2 linked regions of the Homo sapiens genome follow. The protein of the gene in region 1 purifies or fractionates together with the protein of each later gene. This does not show direct contact. Each region holds a gene or a part of one and is shown on either strand. Other genes may lie near its edges.

What was found.
Region 2: the proteins of RASL10A (region 1) and RAP1GDS1 purify together in Homo sapiens (affinity purification with mass spectrometry; 3 studies listed by BioGRID and IntAct, with this or other methods). This does not show direct contact.

Annotation. Positions count from the first base shown.
Region 1 is NC_000022.11:29,312,898-29,318,847, reverse strand, and holds RASL10A (ras-like protein family member 10A), read left to right. Parts: upstream 1-3,150; 5' UTR 3,151-3,601; coding exon 3,602-3,820; intron 3,821-4,860; coding exon 4,861-4,985; intron 4,986-5,279; coding exon 5,280-5,547; 3' UTR 5,548-5,915; downstream 5,916-5,950. UniProt on the Homo sapiens protein: Potent inhibitor of cellular proliferation.
Region 2 is NC_000004.12:98,421,761-98,426,449, forward strand, and holds part of RAP1GDS1 (rap1 GTPase-GDP dissociation stimulator 1), read left to right. Parts: intron 1-4,689. UniProt on the Homo sapiens protein: Acts as a GEF (guanine nucleotide exchange factor) for the Rho family of small GTP-binding proteins (G proteins) that stimulates the dissociation of GDP to enable subsequent binding of GTP.

The DNA.
Region 1 (5,950 bases):
CCACTGTGTGCCTAGTGCCAGTCCCCTCTGCTGAAGGAGAAGATGCATGCATAGTTGGCAGGTGGTCCCTGGAGCCCTGGATAGGGGCATTCAAGGAGTGCCCAGGAGGCCCCTGGGGAATAGGGATTGGAGGGGGGCAGCAGGCAGGAGGCCTACAGCCTTTCCTTGGGGAAGGAATGAGGGGACTGATGAGAGAACCCTGAAATCCACATCCCAGGCAGACAGGCAGCTTCAGCCCCCCAGCCTGCTGGTCTTTAGGAAGCCTGGCACAGGGCTGCACACTCCCATTAGAGCTCATTTCAGCCCCTGTGGATGGGGGGCTCCACGGGACCTAGAGGCCTCCCCAAGTCCCTCCCGACAGGGGGCTGAGTGGTCACTGGGGGCTGAGCTTCAGTTGAGTACTTCCTGAGAACCCTCTGGGTCCAGATGAAGCCAGGCTTCTCAGCCAGGCTCTGGAGCCCAAGGGCCTGGGTTCCGGCCCCTGTGCTGCCATTTTCCTGCTAGGCAACTGTGGCCCAATCATGGCGTCCCAGGGAGCCTTAGTGAGCATGAGGCTGTGGGTCAGGCTTGGCACATCGCAGGCCCTTGATAAATGGGCACTGCTGCTAGGAACGCTGCTGTGAGAGTCTCCTAGGGAACATGGCACGTTTGCAGGGCTTCATGGGAGCCTCAGGACGTTCCCAGTCCACAGTGCCCCTTCCCCTCGCCATCCAAAAACACATACTGGGAGCCAGAGACGCCTCACACACAGCTCTGTTTGCAGTGTCGGAAGGAGAAGCAAGGAAAGTTTTTCAGAGAAAGAATACCCAGGGGTGGGCGGGAGTGCGCCTAGCATTGAGAACACCTTAAAAAAGACCGTCCTGGCCGGGCGCAGTGGCTCATGCCTGAAACCCCAGCACTTTGGGAGGCTGAGGCGGGTGGATCACCTGAGGTCAGCAGTTCGAGACCAGCCTGACCAATATGGTGAAACCCCGTCTCTACTAAAAAACACAAAAATTAGCCGGGCATGGTGGCATGTGCCTGTAGTCCCAGCTACTCTAGAGGCTGAGACAGGAGAATTGCTTGAACCCAGGAGGTGGAGGTTGCAGTGAGCCAAGATCGCACCACTGCACTCCAGCCTGGGTGACAGACCGAGACTCCATCTCAAAACAAACAAACAAAAGACCGTCCTGGTGTCAGCTTTTCAGACTTCTGGGTTTTGTTGTTGTGTTGCTGAGTGCCTTGTTATTTACTCCTTGCCTTGTTCCCCGAAGGAATTGAAGCAGCTCACAAAACCCAGAAGCCTGAAAAGTCAAAAACCCAGAAGTTTGGCCAGATGTGGTGGCTCACGCCTGTAATCCTCGCACTTTTGGAGGCTGAGGAGGGAGGATTGCTTAAGCCAGGAGTTCAAGACCAGCCTGGGCAACATAGTGAGATTCCACCTCTACAAAAAATAAAAATAAATCAGCTGGATGTCGTAGTACACACCTGCAGTCCCAGCTATTTGAGAGACTGAGGCAAGGAGGATCACTTGAACCCAGGAGGTTGAGGATGCAGTGAGCTAAGATCACACCACTGCACTCCAGCTTGGGTGACAGAGCAAGACCTTGTCTCAAACAACAAAACCCAGAAGTCTGAAAAGTTACAACGTGAAAGAGGACATCAAGTGAAGGGAAAAATCATGGTAGGAAAGAAAGATGAAGCCAGCAGTCCCCACTCACTGAGCTAGAAGACCTGGAACACTAGACAGAGGTGGTTCTGAGCTTCCTAGTGGCTGAGGAGAGGAGTGAAAGCGGACCCCAGCCCCCGATCTAGCATGGGAGGATGAAAGCACAGCCATTGTTCTGGAGACACTTTCTGGTTGTCATTATACAGGCTCCCTGGAGGATGTGCCTCCTCCCCCTTCAGGATTTAGCTCCTCTACTTCCCCTGGGCTGGTGTGGGCACATTGTCTGTGCTTTGACAGTCCCTAGATCCCATGTGTTCTAGAACCTTCTCTCCCAAAGCAGAACTTTTTTTTTTTTTCCTGTTTTCTGTTTTTTAAATCTATCTCAGCCTCCTGACAAGCAATAAGATTTGGAATATTTGTTGAGGGGATAAATAAATGAACTCCTTAGTCAGTGCAGAGATCTGTGCATTGCGGCCATTTCTTGAGCATTGCCGCCATTTCTTGAGCATTGCCATGTGCAGGTCAGAGACGTGGGAGCCCCCACACAGCGGGGAGGAGAGCAGAGGCGGAGGATGGGGGGGCTGGGCTAACCCAGGCTTTCCAAGCTGTGATGGGGCAGGAGCTTCTCCACTAGCTCGAGGGAGGGGGAACTTGGGCTCTGGGCGCCTGTTTTGGAGGTTGCATCCCTTTGAGGGGCGCTACGGGTTGCAACTCACGCAGGAAAGGTGACCTTAGTAGTGATGGAGGTGGAGTGGGCCAATTTCTGGATCTTTATTTAGTCACCTCCAGCCTTGCTGGGACAGGGATCTGGGGCTAAGCTGCTGTGGTCTCGGCACCCTCTGTCCCCACTTCCCCTCGAGGACGGCTGTTTGAATATTGTCTAGTGTGGGCCATTTACCCCCGTGGGCAGGAGGAAGGTAGGAGGGACTTCAAAGGAGACTTCAAGGGCCCCCCCACTGCCCTTCTAACCTTGCAGATTCCCCTCTCGGGCCTGTTTCCTCTTCTCTCAACCAGCGATGCCAGGCTGAGGCTGTAGGTTCGAGAATCACGTAGGTAATGGGCCTGGCACATAGTAGGCTCTCAAGAAAAGGTTGGAGCCTCTTGAGGAGTCTGCCTGTGATGGATGCGGAGCGCAGACCCAGCGCAGTGCGGCGATTCGCCCAAGGTCACACAGCCGCCCCCCCCAATTCGGACCCCGGGCGGCCTGACTCCGGGGGCCGGGGCTTGTCGGGAGCCAGCGTGGGGGCGAGCAGTGTTTGGAAGAGCGGCCGCGGCAGTGGGTGGGAAGGGGCTTCTATTTTGGAGCGGGTGAGAGGAGCGGGACACGCGGAGGAGGTAAGGAAGGGGTAGGCCCTCTCCGGGATCTCTGTCCCCCAGTCACCTTCCTGCGACCCTTCCTGGGAGGGGCGTCCTGGGCGGTGGGGGAAGGTGGGAGGGGCGGGCGGTTACCTCATCGCCGCCTCCGGGAGGCCCCGCTCGCTCGCGCCGGCGGCTGGGGCGGCGACTCCAGGCGCGGAAGCGAGAGAAGGATAGAGGCACAGAGGCTCCGGGAGGCAGCGCTGCCCCCCGCGCCCCGCACCGCTGCGGGACCCGCGCCGCGAGAGGGGCGGACTTCGGCGCCTCGCGCGTCCGCCGGCGCCTGGGTTGGCGCTGCGGGGCGGAGGCGGTGTCTGAGCGCCGCTCCGGCTCTGCTCTCTCTCGAGCTTCGGCACCCGCCCGAGCCGCTCGCGCGCCCGCCACCTGTCTGCCCACTCGGCTGTCTGTCTGCCCTCCCGCCGCCAGCTCCTGCCTCGGGCCTGCCCTCTCCGGTCTCGGTGCTCCGAGGGGCGACGAGAAGCGCGACGGGGCCGTGGCGCACCGGGCAGGGCGCGCGGGGCGCACGGCCTGGGGGCGCACGGTGCGGCGCCGGCCCATGAGGCTTTCCAGCGCGGGGAGCGACAGCGCCGGCCGGCCATGGGGGGTAGCCTGCGGGTGGCCGTTCTAGGCGCCCCGGGCGTGGGCAAGACGGCCATCATCCGCCAGTTCCTGTTCGGTGACTACCCCGAGCGCCACCGGCCCACGGACGGGCCGCGCCTCTACCGACCCGCGGTGCTGCTCGACGGCGCCGTCTACGACTTGAGCATCCGCGACGGCGACGTCGCTGGCCCCGGCTCGAGCCCCGGGGGTCCGGAGGTAGCGGCTCGAGGAGCGGGCAGGGGCGTGTGACAGTGTGAGGGGTGTGCGTGCTCGGTGCACACGTGCGTGTCCGCGTGGAGGCCTCGGGCGCCTGGCTGTGCTCCGGGATGGAGGGATGTGTGTGCGTCCTGGGATACTTGCGTTTCAGCCCTTCCCGCCGACCTGGAGACGCCCAAGCCCAGGCTGGAGGCCGGGCGATTTTGCCCAGGGGCGTTCCCTTGCTCCTGTGAGCGCCTCCACCTTTGCCTGCCTCGGCTGGGGGTGTGGAGCAGCTCTTGGTGGTGCATAACGGTGCCTTCCCGAGAGTGTGGCGTTTTGTGTTTGGGGCCTTGAGCAGAGCTACAATGGGAGAGACTGGGGTCAGGAGCAGGGGTGTACTTTCTACGGGGGCTGGTGGAGGGGTTCATTCTCTGCCCTATCATTTTTGTCCCCTGGAGCGAAGACTCGTTTAGTAATTTGTGCAAAGTAAAGGACAGACCTCCGACCCTAGAGCAGTGAAGAGGAAAGAGCAGGCAGGATTAAGCAGGGCTTCCTGGAGGGAGTGGCATTTGAGCTGAACCTGGAAGACCGAGTGAAGTTCTGAGTAAAGGAAGTGGCAAAAACATACCAGGTGGAAAGACCAGCAGGTGCTTACGCTACGGTCATAAACGGTTACAGCTGACAATCTGGGGGCGTGGTGGACCACGGGACTCGGGCCAAGGGCTTTGGAATTAGTCTTAGAGGCCGTGGTAAGCACCGAGAGCATCTAGGGAGGAGAGCGGCCTGAGCCGAGTTGGGGAAAGCTGAAAAGAGGAAGATTCGGGGTAAACAGAGGGGAGACCAAGGATGAAGGAGGCTGGCTGACAGGCTCCAGGCACGATTTGGAAAATTTTACCCTGGTGGTCATGAGGAGACGGCCCGGAAAGCTTGGGGGAGGGGCACAGAGGTCTGTATGGGGGTGATGTTGGCCTGAGGATTAGCGTCCAGGCCCCTGCAGAGGGTTCGAGAGCGGAAGAGTGGAAAGGAGGCTTCCGCAAACCCTGGCCTCCTGTCCCCAGGAGTGGCCAGACGCTAAGGACTGGAGCTTGCAGGACACGGACGCCTTCGTGCTCGTCTACGACATCTGCAGCCCGGACAGTTTCGACTACGTGAAGGCCCTGCGGCAGCGCATCGCGGAGACCAGGTAGGGGCCCGGCAGTTCTGGCGGTGGGGAGCTAGGACAGGTCTGGCAGGGCCTTTGCCTGAGGAGAGTGTGTAGGGTCTCCCAACGTCGTGGGCCGGGTCTTAGGCCTTCGCCCGTGGGAAGGTCTTAAGCTGTATGTGCTCTTTGGCCCACATGGGCCTGGGGTTTCGTTGGGGCGGCGGGGGGGGCGGTGTCTCTGGCCGTAGGAAGGGAATGCGCCTGCGTGTGTATACCCACTGGGGGAATTCTCCGGCCGTGGGGTCCCCGCGTCTCTCATCTCCATTCGGCCCCCAGGCCGGCGGGCGCGCCCGAAGCGCCCATCCTCGTGGTAGGCAACAAGCGGGACAGGCAGCGGCTGCGCTTCGGACCGCGGCGCGCGCTGGCCGCCCTAGTGCGCAGGGGCTGGCGCTGCGGCTACCTCGAGTGCTCCGCCAAGTACAACTGGCACGTGCTGCGTCTCTTCCGCGAGCTGCTGCGCTGCGCTCTGGTGCGCGCGCGCCCTGCACACCCGGCCCTGCGCCTGCAGGGGGCGCTGCATCCCGCGCGCTGCAGCCTCATGTGACCCGATCGGACAGTGCCATCCATGGGCCCCACCTTGTGACTGGGACAATCAGGGACCTGGATTGGACGGGATCGCCCAACTTCACTGGGACTGGACAGGGAAGTCTCCGCCCTGATTGGATGAGGAAAGCTCCAACCCAGTCTCCTAAGCGACTGGCCCCCTTTTGAACCTCATTGGACCCAACCAGGTCCCAAGCTCCATTGGAGATGACCAGTCCTTTCTGGGACCTCAATGGGTCACAATCCCATTGGATGGAAAGGACTTGGCTATGAACTTGACTGGAAACACGCAGCCTGCTCCTGGAGCTTCACTGGACATATTCTTTATGCCACACCTACCACGGGATAATAAAAGGGAAAATAATTTGAGTGCGCCTGGGATTTCTGGGCTGGGCGGGATAACG
Region 2 (4,689 bases), on another chromosome or scaffold:
CTGGCTGTGCCGCTGTCTGGCACATGGTAGATAACCAATAAATGAACAAATGAGCTATTTTAAAGATCACAATAGTGAGTACCCAGGCCAGCAGTTCAGCAGCTGATTTAGTATCTAGATTATATGATTTTTAAATTTTTTAAATACTGTTTTCTTGTTGGGCGTGGTGGCTGACACCTGTAATCCCAGCACTTTGGGAGACTGAGGTGGGCAGATCATGAGGTCAGGAGATCAAGACCATCCTGGATAACATAGTGAAACCCCGGGTCTACTAAAAATACAAAAAAAAATTAGCTGGGCGTGGTGGCGGGCACCTGTAGTCCCAGCTACTCGGGAGGCTGAGGCAGGAGAATGGCGTGAACCCGGGAGGCGGAGCTTGCAGAGAGCCGAGATTGCACCACTGCACTCCAGCCTGGGTGACAGAGCAAGACTCCGTCTCAAAATAAAATAAAATACTGTTTTCTTTTTCTTTTTTGAGACTGAGTCTTGCTCTCTCGCTCAGGCTGGAGTACAGTGGCACAATCTCAGCTCATTGCAACCTCCACCTCCTGGGTTCAAGCAATTCTCCTGCCTCAGCCTCCAGAGTAGCTGGGATTACAGGCAGGCGCCACCACACTCGGCTAATTTTTGTATTTTTAGTAGAGATGGGGTTTCACCATGTTGGCCAGGCTGGCCTCAAACTCCTGACCTCATGATCCTCCCACCTTGGCCTCCCAAAGTGCTGGGATTACAGGCATGAGCCACCATGCCCAGCCTTTAATACTGTTTTCTAAGGTGACCCTTTCAGTCATTTCTCTTGTACAACTTCAGTAGTGATTATATATGAGGAGAAAGTTTAGAACTCAAATCCACCAGCTGTTTTCATTTATTTTTAGAACAGATAAGAAGAAGATGCCAAGAGAAAAAACGTAAAACTAAAGCTGTTCTTGTATAAATCTCTTTCATATAAATAATTGGCTTCACCATAATAGCTGTCCCAGCTGGTAAGCCTCAGGAGTGTTCTTCTCCATCAGATGCTAAATCTTGAGAACTTTCCCTGGGGAAAAGCAGCTGTTAACTAGGACCTTCCTATTACCTGTCTCACCCAGACCACCCTAAAAGCTCATACATTTTTCCTGACACAGGACCAAGCAGTATGTTGGCAAGGTGGAAGTTGTCAGGAGAGAATAGCAAAATGGCTTCCTTGGTACCCCTTTGACCCCTTCTCCATCATAACTGCTCTCTCACGCCCATTTGTTCATTTAACAGTTAATATTTGAGTTCTTGCAGTGTAAATACTAAAAAATAGTGTTTCTATAAAGGAATTAACTATCCGTTGAGGGGACAGAAATAAAAACAGCTAGCTTAAGTACAGCTTTAAAGCTACGTATGCTATTCGGGTGTAACAGAGGAAAGAAAGACTAACACACTGTCTGGGTAATCTGGGATGGTGCCATAGAAGGAGTGCTATTTTAGGCGTTAACTAGGAATCTCAGGAGGAAAGGGAAAGAGAATGAAGGAAAGGGCCTTTTCAGGCAAAGACAGCAGGATGTACAAAAGCACAGAGATGTAAAACAGCATAATTTTTTAAAGAAACTGCAAATAAAGCAGTATTGCTAGAACACAGAGTGTAGAAAGAGACAGTAGCCAGAGAGGTTGAAAACTGGGAATTAAGTGAATTATATACCAAGTTAAGATATATGGACTTGATTCTGTAGAGAATTCGGGAGCACTTAAAGGGTTTTAAGCAGCAAGTTGCCATTATTTGAGGGTTTTTTTGTTTTCTTTATTTTTTGTTTTTTTGTTTTTTCGGGGTTTTTTTGAGACAGAGTTTCGCTCTTGTTGCCCGGGCTGGAATGCAATGGTGCGATCTCCACTCACTGTAACCTCCGCCTCCCGGGATCAAGTGATTCTCCTGCCTCAGCCTCCTGAGTAGCTAGGATCACAGGCGTGCACCACCATGCCCGGCTAATTTTGTATTTTTAGTAGAGACGGGGTTTCTCCATTTTGGTCAGGCTGGTCTCAAACTGCCGACCTCAGGTGATCCGCCTACCTCGGCCTCCCAAAGTGTTGGGATTACAAGCGTGAGCCACCACACCCAGCCATTTAGTTTTCATTTAGAAAGATGTCTCTAGGGTTTAATGGGGGTAGAAAGGACAGTTATTGCAAAAATATATATGAGAGTTGATAAAGGACTGAATTAAGGTTTTGAGTTGAGCAATTTGAAATTGCTGATATTCAGCCATTTTTGAAACAAATTTCATATGGGTTATTCAACTAGAAGCAGCGAGGATGGAAAAGAAGAGACAGACCTGAGAAAAATATGGGTGGTAGAATTGACAGATTCAACAGTAGAATTAAAGGAGGAGGTAGTTTTAGAGCTAATTCCAAGTTTGGGGTTTACCACCAGATTGGGTTATCATGCCATTCAACAAAATAAAACACTATAGGAAGAGGTGCAGCTAACACTCCCTAAACTTGCCCACTCGCCCATGCTCTTTGGAGTCATTACCCTTAATCTTTTTGCTCTACTCCAAGAGAATCTCCACCATTGGTTTGCAGGGGTATACAATCATTTGGATTTCCCTGGGCCATATTGGAAAACGAATTGTCTTGGGCCACACATAAAATGCACTAACACTAACAATAGCTGATGAGCTTAAAAAAACAAAAATCACAAAAAAAACTCAAACACCTGTGGCATTTGAAGAAGAAGAGAAATCTAAAAGTTTAGAAAACCAGCTGAGTGCGGTGGCTCACGCCTGTAATCCCAGTACTTTGGGAGGCCAAGGTAGGTGGATCATTGTGGTCAGGAGTTCCAGACCAGCCTGGCCAACATGGTGAAACCCCATCTCTACTAAAAATGCAAAAATTAGCCAGGCATGGTGGCGTGCGCCTGTAATCCCAGCTACTGGGGAGGCTGAGGCAGGAGAATTGCTTGAACCTGGGAAGCGGAGGTTGCAGTGAGCCAAGATCGTGCCACTGCACTCCATCCTGGGTGACAGAGCAAGACTCCCAAGACTCTGTCTCCAAAAAAAAAAAAAAAACAAAGAAAACTTTTGGAAAACATATTTGGGAGAATAATCAAGGAAGACTTCTCCAGTCTTGCTAGAGACCTAGACGTCCAAATACAAGAAGCTCAAAGAATACCTGGGAAATTCATTGCAAAAAGATCATTGCCTAGGCATATTGTCATCAGGTTATCTAAAGTTAAGACAAAGGAAAGAATCTTCAGAGCTGTGAAGCAAAAGCACGAGGTAACCTATAAAGGAAAACCTATCAACTTAACAGTGGATTTCTCAGCAGAACCCCTACAAGCTAGAAAGGATTGGGGCCCTATCTTCAGTCTCCTTAAAGAAAGCAATTATCAGCCAAGAATTCTGTATCCAGTGAAACTAAGCTTCATAAATGAAGGAAAGATACAGTGTGTTTCAGACAAACAAATACTGAGAGAATTCACCACTACCAAGCCAGCACTACAAGAGCTGCCAAAAGGAGCCCTAAATCTTAAATCCTGGAAACACATCAAAACAGAACCTCTTTAAAGAATAAATCTCACAGGACCTACAAAACAAAAATACAATTAAAAAAAAAGTGGGGGGTATACAGGCAACAGATAGCATGATGAATGGAATAGTACCTCACATCTCAATACTAAGATTGAATGTAAATGGCCTAAATGTTCCACTAAAAGATACAGAATTGCAGAATAGATAAGAATTCATTAACTATCTGCTGCCTTTAAGAGACTTACCCAACACATAAGGACTCACTTAAGGTAGAGGGGTGGAAAAAGACATTCTATGTAAATGGATACCAAAAGTCAGCAGGAATAGCTATCTTGTATCAGGCAAAACAAACTTTAAAGAAACAGCAGTTCAAAAAGACAGAGGGACATTATATAATGATAAAAGGCCTTGTCCAACAGGAAAATATCACAATCCTGAATATATATGCACCAAACACTGGAGCTTCCAAATTTATAAAACAATTGCCAATAGACCTAAGAAACAAGATAGACAGTAACACAATAGTGGGAGACTTCAATACTCCACTGACAGCATTAAAGAGGTTATCAAGACAGAAAGTCAACAAAGAAACAATGGATTTAAACTATACCCTAGAACAAATGGACTTAACAGATATTTACAGAACATTCTACCCAAAACTGCAAAATATACATTCTATTCATTAGCAAATGGAACTTTTCTCCAAGATAGACCATATAATAGACCACAAAACAAGCCTCAATAAATTTTAAGAAAATTGAAATTATGGCAAGTACTCTCTCAAACCACAGTGGAATAAAACTGGAAATCAACTCCAAAAGGAACCTTCAAAGCCATGCAAATACATGGAAATTAAATAACCTGCTCCTGAATGATCACTGGGTCAATAACAAAATCAAGATGGGAATTTAAAAATTCTTTGAACTGAACAATAAATGATACAACCTATCAATACCTCTGGGATACAACAAAGGCGTTGCTAAGAGGAAAGTTTATAGCCTGAAATAGGCATTTCAAAAAGTCTGAAAGAGCACAAAGAGACAATCTAAGGTCACATTTCAAGGAACTAGAGAAACAAGAACAAACCAAACCCATACCCAGCAGAAGAAAGGAAATAACCAAGATCAGAGCAGAACTAAATGAAATTGAAACAAAAAAGACAATACAAAAGATAAATGAAACAAAAAGCTGATTATTTGAG